2 linked regions of the Homo sapiens genome follow. The protein of the gene in region 1 purifies or fractionates together with the protein of each later gene. This does not show direct contact. Each region holds a gene or a part of one and is shown in the gene's direction. Other genes may lie near its edges.

Region 1 (3,756 bases):
TCATCTCAAGTTTTGGGAAGACAAGGCTCATACAGATTATATGACTGTCTCATGGTCATGGGAAATTAGGAGAGATCTGAGGATAAATTTCATGCCTCCCATGGCTCATCCCAGTGCTTATTCAACTACAGTGCATGTCGTGCCTATAACCTCACCTAGTTGCTCACATCAATTTCCACTGCAGGTTCCAAGCTGGCTTACTTCATCCAGTGGAAGAAAGGAAATAATGCTAAATACAGAATTGTGTTTCAGGTACAGAGTAATAGATAAATTAGAAATAGGACAAAGTTGAACTCCAAAGGATTTTAGGGTAATAACACCTTTGATTCTGGCAAAATAAATTAATAAAGATAATTATAACAGCAATGATAACATATTTATTCTGAAGACATAAGATGTCAAGCACTGTATTAAGCTTGATAAATATTCATTTAATCTTCAGGGCCACCAAATGAGAATAAAGGCTAATATTATTGCTGTTTAGAGAATAGGAAGCTGAAGTTGAGAGAGTTTAAAGAATGTGCTAGAATTCACACAACTGTATGTGATATAGCTAGGATTCATACCCATGCCTGACCACAGAGTCATATTGGATATGTCTTCTTACTGTGTGAGACTGTTAGGTTGGTCAATTAGGTTGTTATTGGAGCCTACACTAGGACCATGTTACATTTAGGTAGGTTGAATCAGGCCCAGACTGGATTACACTCAAACAGCACACAGGTTTAGGGCTATAAACAGTCCTTTATCTTCCTTGCAATGTAATGTATCCAAGTTGCTGGGAATCCCATATATAATTAACTTAGTATTTACTAGAACGCTTAGTTCAAGAAAGCTTTTTATTTAAAATGTTAGAAGAGCTTATATCCAACTCTCAACTTATAAACTATTACATAACCTCAGGCTTCAGGAGAAGAATTATTGCACTATGTGTGGAATTCTTTCCTTACCATTAGCCGAATCACGTTTCACTGCTTCTGTAACAATCAAACCTATGAGAAGATTTGATATTCAAAATTTAGAGCAAAAATGGTCATTTATATTCTACACACTGCATTACTCCCATAGAGTCTGCAGCACAAGATTACTCACTATTGCTCTCAAGAAAAAAAAAAAATCAAGAATTCACAGCCAGACTACTTAACAACTAGGCAAACAAGTTATATCATCTAGCATGACAGATGGTGAAATTATGAGGCGATCCAACCTATGTTTCTGCATTTACCTCATCAAAGCAAAGGGCAGCTGCCCTGGCTTAAGCGGGGATGAGCTGGGGGTACAAAGGGATGTAGCACTAGTTTCAAGCCCTGGTCACTTCCAGGAGATGTTCTTGATTTTCCTGATAAAGCAACATACCACATATATTATTTTTAGTCTTATAAGTACATTTTAAAACTGACATTAGAAAGCTAGCCTATTCAAAAGAGGAGTACCACGATGGTGAAAGGCACAGTTAAATGAAAAGATTTGTGCATGGTTTGTTTAAGTAGAAGACTGGATTTTTTCATTATGTAGCACTTGAGGGCAATGCACAGACCCATGGATAAAAGTCTGGAAGTCACAAAAAAGGCACACTATTGGCAAAATACAAGGCAAAACCCAACCAACCATTAAAATGATAGCTAGAACTGACTCTTCTGACTAGAAAGAAAGAAAAGAGAAAGCAAGAAAGGAGGGAAGGAAAAGGAAATACACAGCCTCCAATTTTTAAGAAATAGAGGGATGAGGAATATGCCAAAATCTACACCATAGTAGGCAGTAGGCTCTGGGAACCTCTACAGTACAAACAACCCAGTTACTTCAAATAAGTTCCTGGGAACAAGAACAAGAAAATCTGGAGAACAGATGAAAAGAAATGTAAAAAGTTAGCAACCCATCACAATGTATGGAATGGTTGGATCATGATTCAAACAAACAACCTTAAAAAATTCTGATGAAACAAGTGAAAATTTAATATACTCTGGATGTTAGATAACCTTAATGAATAATTATATTTTTAGTGGGATAACCGTATTGTGGTTGTCTTTTAAAATTACTTATTATTTGGAGATACACATTCAAATATTTATGAAGGAGGTGATGTGATATTTGAAATTTGCTTCTAAATAATATGCCCAAGAAGAAAGTAGTTGGGGTGTGGGTGGGGTAGGATTGGCCATTAGTTGATTATGTTGAGGCTGATAATGGGTACATTAAGTTTCATTATAATATTGTCTACTTTTGGGATTATTTAAGCTTCTTCACAATAAAGAGTTAAGAAAAAAAACAGAGTTGATGTTGTTAGTAGAGTAAATCTTTTAATAAGAATTTAATTTTCATAACATATATGGGTCAGTGAATTCTCTGGTCACCAAATTTATTCGTAAGTGCAAATTACTCTCTAAATTGAACAGTGTCTGTTGTTACTGAAATGAAAACCAAATATGCTCATATTAAGCAGAGTAGTCTGGAAATATACTTATGTTTGTAAAAGCAGACAAGGAAGTAATCATTTTTAATATCTATTATAATATGGGAATCTGGAGGTTAGTTTCATATTATTGGTAACATTAATTAGAGACATTAATTAGAAATAGTTTGTTTTTGAGATAGGTCATGGGAAAACCTGAGAACAATTTGAAAGCCTAAGAAGTCAACATGATGCAAGAAAAAATAGTTCTAAAAAGTGCTATGGCTTGGAACATTGCATTTATTGACAGGGTATTAAGTATGAAGCTTTTGTATGACTATCTCTTTGAAATATCACAAAAACTGTGAAAGGCAGGTATCACATAAACCTGATTAGTCTGACTCTGAAACTTCTTGTTATTCTTTACTGCTCAAGTTCACTTTAGGAAAATAGAAAAAAAAAAAAAAGCAGATTGTGAAAACCAGGAGAGTATAGTTCACTGAAAATCAGAGAGAAAATATAGTGCAGAGCTGGGAGAAAGAAGCATTAAGAAAAGAGAGTGTGATAGAGTAGTAAGTGCATGGAGTTTTACTTAAGTCAGAAATTGGGGTTCAGGCACTATCTCCACTACTCAACCACTCTTGGTCTGGGGAGGATGGGGCCTCAAAAGAAGGGTCATGAACTTGGTTAATTAAAAATAATATGGCCAGAGGAATTTTTAAAAATTTTACAAGATCATGCTATTTGGCAAATTAAGTTTATGTTTTTTAAATTGTTCAAATCATCCATGATACAAAATTTGCAGTGACAATGAGCAGAAAATATAGCTGTGTAGTGTCAGCCCTTGTTAGGTTCCGTTAAGAAGCTTTTTCTTGTAGTTTTTATTATTATTTGTAATAGGAACTATTTTTCTCCCCACCCCATAAGCACATAGTATCCATGAAAATGTTCCGTTTATGAGCTTAAATGTTTCTTATTTTTTTTCCTATTTATTTTTGGTTATCATTATGACTGTAATTTAAAATTCATGCTACTTTTACAATGCAAAAATGAATTGAGGCTATTCAGTTATTATACTAAAGGCTTAGGAATCCATAGAGACTTAAGGCCTCCAATACTGTTGGCATTAATTTTTAATCAGTTAACAATATTTAATATGAGAGAAACATAAAACAGTGCAACTAAGCAATTTTAAAATCATCTACATTGACCTTTGTGTTGAATATATCAATTTGAAAAGAAAATGGTTAAGATTTTCCAGTAAAGCTTTTGGTTTTATAGTTATGCTTAGTTGGAGCTTAAAGATAGTATTAAAACATTATTCTTTTCTTCTTTCAAACAAAAAGAAACCCGTTGGGGACATGTTT
Region 2 (3,756 bases), on another chromosome or scaffold:
GAAATAGAGTAGAAGATGTAAATCTTCGAAATACTTCGAAATACTTCAAAACAATCCACAGGACTTAGATATACAAAACTCCCACAGTGGGAGTCAGAAACAGCACTAAAAAATGGAATGTCAGGTAGTATTAACAGAAGGTGGAATTAACAGAAATGTGAACATTGGGAAGGGAGGCCATATTTTTAGGAAATGAAGATGACTTGATTTTCGGATGCTGTGATTTTGAGGTAATGAGCTATCAAAGGTGAAAACATGTTTTCTTCAAGATGGTTTTATTTTTACAAATAATTTTTTTAGATAAATGTATTTAAGGCATTTCTAAAAGTAGTATGTGGTTAATAGTGCTACAAATGTATTTATTACAGCAGCACTCAAGAGTGTGGCAGGGTCAGCTATGTAAGGTGTATAGCTTAAGGTGTTTATAGGTAAAATGTTGCTTGTTTTGTAAGTTATATTTTCATACACAGTGTTTCTTGTTTTGTGTTCAGCTATTATATTTTAATATGTGACTGTGTGTCAGACTGCCGTTCTTAGAAGTTATGCTTTAAAAAAAGTTCTCTTTCCTATGAGTGTTTTTTCACAATAAGAAACACCTTTTACAAATTAACTCATACTCAATTAAGTATACCTATACATGAATCTTTGAGTGTATGTATAAACTGAAACCAAAGTTGCATTTACAAAGGATTCTAATGAGTATTGCTTCCATTCTGTTCATTTTGTTTCATTCTCCCCCACTGCCCCCCCACCCCCAACAGATGCTGGAAGAAATCCACTGAACCGATTTTATACCCTATTAATGGATTGTAATACACAGTTTGAAAAATACGTCTTCTGGAGCTCTGTGTGCATTAAAATAAATTAACCCTTTCCTTTTTCAAATCAGGTTGCCTTTTCTTTTAGAATAGCTGTTCCCAACAGCCTGCAGCCAATCTGACTAGATACTTTTATGGGACCATGAATAATTTAAAATTTATTATCCTGTAATTATCAACCTTTTAAAAGAATATGCTGGTTTATGTAAATGAATCTGTAAGTGGTATTTCCGAATATATAAAAAAATGAAGTGGAAAAGATACAGGATTGGAGGAAGTAGTTTTGGACTAAAGAAATCATAATTAAGTAGCAGGCATATTTTTCCATCTTTCAGAGGCCACCTCACTGCAGTGACATCTCATGCAAGTTGTCATGGAAGGAATAAACAGAACAATCATAGCGACTCTCTTAACCTTTGACCTTTAGCTCATCTCACAGGATTGCACAGTAGTTAATAAAATGTACAAGCAAGCAGTGAGAAGCTTACTTACATAGTATGTAATAAAATGACCTTGGCTTTGAGGAGCGAGCTTTTTGCAGGAAGGTGAAAGGGTAAAATGAAAGTTTTAAGCCACCTTTGAGGAAAGAGTGAGGGAAGAGCCTTTATTTCTTGTGAGAGGCTGAAACAGTTACCAGATTTTTTTAAAAAATAAAAGTAACTAGAATTTTTGTAGGGCTTCACATTTTATAAAATGCTTTACACGAATTTTCTAGTGTTTGGTGTCCTAAACTCAAGGGCCAAGCAGATGAAAATACATGTAGTTGGGTGAAAGACAATAGTGGTGCCTGTGAAGAACTGGTAAGTGTATACCCTTATCTAAGGGTAATCAAAATCAACTTAAAAACAAAAATATCCAAACTATTGTACGAACCAAGCAACTTTATATATATTTTATGTAATCTTAACTGCTCATCCCTGAGCTAAAGGTAATATTATCTCTATTCATTGGTATTGGAAACTAAGTACAGATTCGGTAAGTTATGTAAGGTCATGTAAAAGATGGAGTTTAGATTCAAACCAAGTGTATCAAGTCCATGTTCTTTCCAGTATACTATACGTCCTCTATGACTGGTGATATGGTTTGGCTCTGTGTCCCCACCCAAATCTCATCTTGTAGCACCCATAATTCCCATGTGTTGAGGAGGAGACCCACTGTGAGATGATTGAATCATGGGGACAGGTCTTTCCCATGCTGTTCTCATTATAGTGAATGGGTCTCACAAGATCTCATGGTTTTAGAAACAGGAGTTTCTCTACACAAGCTCTCTTTCTTTGCCTGCTGCCATCCACGTAGGATATGACTTTTTCCTTCTTGTCTTCTGCCATCATTGTGAGGCCTCCCCAGCCACGTGGAACTGCAAGTCCAGTTAAACCTCTTTCTTTTGTAAATTGCCCAGTCTCGGGTACGTCTTTATCAGCAGTGGGAAAACGGACTAATACAACCAGTTTCTTTTCTTTGAACTGTTTACTCCTTTCCAGTTTATCTTCTGGGGCTTTTTGTTTTGGTTTCAAATTTATTTATTTTTAAAATTGACATATAAAATTTAAAATTCTAGTGGTTTCTTTTTTTTTGCACCAGAATGATTTTCCTGTCAGACAGCCATGATTGTGTTGCTTTTCTTTTGCTCAGCATTTTTAAGTTGTTCTTCTGTACCTTTAAAAACAAACTTTAAAGTTCTCTAGTATGAAATAAAAGTCTTCCAAGAAACTCACTCTTCTTACTTCTTATACACTCATTTCCTGATCCTAGTGTGTTTATTTAATTCCCAGCTACCAGTAGTTCTTTCTGTATAGGATAACTTACTTTGTTATATGCCTGTTGAACTCCTTTTTCAACCTTTAAGAGACAGGGGTCTTGCTCTGTTGCTCAGACTGGAGTGCAGTGGTGCAATCACAGGTCACTGCAGCATCAACCTCCAGGCTCAAGTGATCCTCTCACGTCAGTCTCCTGAGTAGCTGGGACCACAGGCGGGTGCCACCATGCTGCCTTTTTTTTTTTTTTTTGAGACAAAGTCTTGCTTTGTCACTCAAGCTGGAGTGCAGTGGCACGATCTCGGCTCACGCAATCTCTGCCTCCTGGGTTCAAGCGATTCTCCTGCCTCAGCCTCCTGAGTAGCTGGGATTACAGGTGTGTGCCACCATAGTTGGCTAATTTTTGTATATTTAGTAGAGACAAGGTTTCGCCACGTTGGCCAGGCTGGTCTTGAACTCCTGGATCAAGTGATTGTCCTACCTTGGGCTCCCAAAGTCCTGGCATTACTGATGTAAGCCACCGTGCCTGGCCCATTCATCACTTCTAAAGATAGTCATAATACCAGTTGTAATGCTGTTTCAGTCTTCTAAAGGATCTGTTGCCCTTGTTCAATTAATTTTCTACTTTATCAAATTTGAGATACCACAGACTTCTACATGATTGTGAGTTTATTTTCCTTACCTAAAAAGCTGATTTTGTCTTGTCAGGTTTTTGACATCTATCGGATGTGTATGTGTGTGTCTGGGTACATATACACTTAAATGTCATGTTATTTTTTTCAGAAATGAGAGATAAAATGAGAAAATGGAGAGAAGAAAACTCAAGAAATAGTGAGCAAATTGTGGAAGTTGGAGAAGAATTAATTAATGAATATGCTTCTAAGCTGGGAGATGATAGTAAGTTCTTTTATTACATTCAGGCTCAGTACATGCCTCATTCATGGGCCTTTTTTTTTTTTTAACTGTTCTTTCATTCATGATTTTTCTACTTGTCATATTAATTTTCTTTGTGACTTTTTGTCCCAAGAATTTTAATGATAGTTTATTTTGAGAAGGATTTATAATTGCTTGGTAGTAGTAAGCTATCAAATAGGCATTTTGTTTTAAAGCTCACAGGGCTGCCAAATGTCTGGCCAAAATGTATTGTGTATGGACTCTTTTAGAACAGTAAAACTATTAAATAA

The links.
Region 2: the proteins of TRDN (region 1) and EMC2 purify together in Homo sapiens (co-immunoprecipitation; 3 studies listed by BioGRID and IntAct, with this or other methods). This does not show direct contact.

Annotation. Positions count from the first base shown.
Region 1 is NC_000006.12:123,630,217-123,633,972, reverse strand, and holds part of TRDN (triadin), read left to right. Parts: intron 1-3,756. UniProt on the Homo sapiens protein: Contributes to the regulation of lumenal Ca2+ release via the sarcoplasmic reticulum calcium release channels RYR1 and RYR2, a key step in triggering skeletal and heart muscle contraction.
Region 2 is NC_000008.11:108,446,468-108,450,223, forward strand, and holds part of EMC2 (ER membrane protein complex subunit 2), read left to right. Parts: intron 1-3,355; coding exon 3,356-3,469; intron 3,470-3,756. UniProt on the Homo sapiens protein: Part of the endoplasmic reticulum membrane protein complex (EMC) that enables the energy-independent insertion into endoplasmic reticulum membranes of newly synthesized membrane proteins.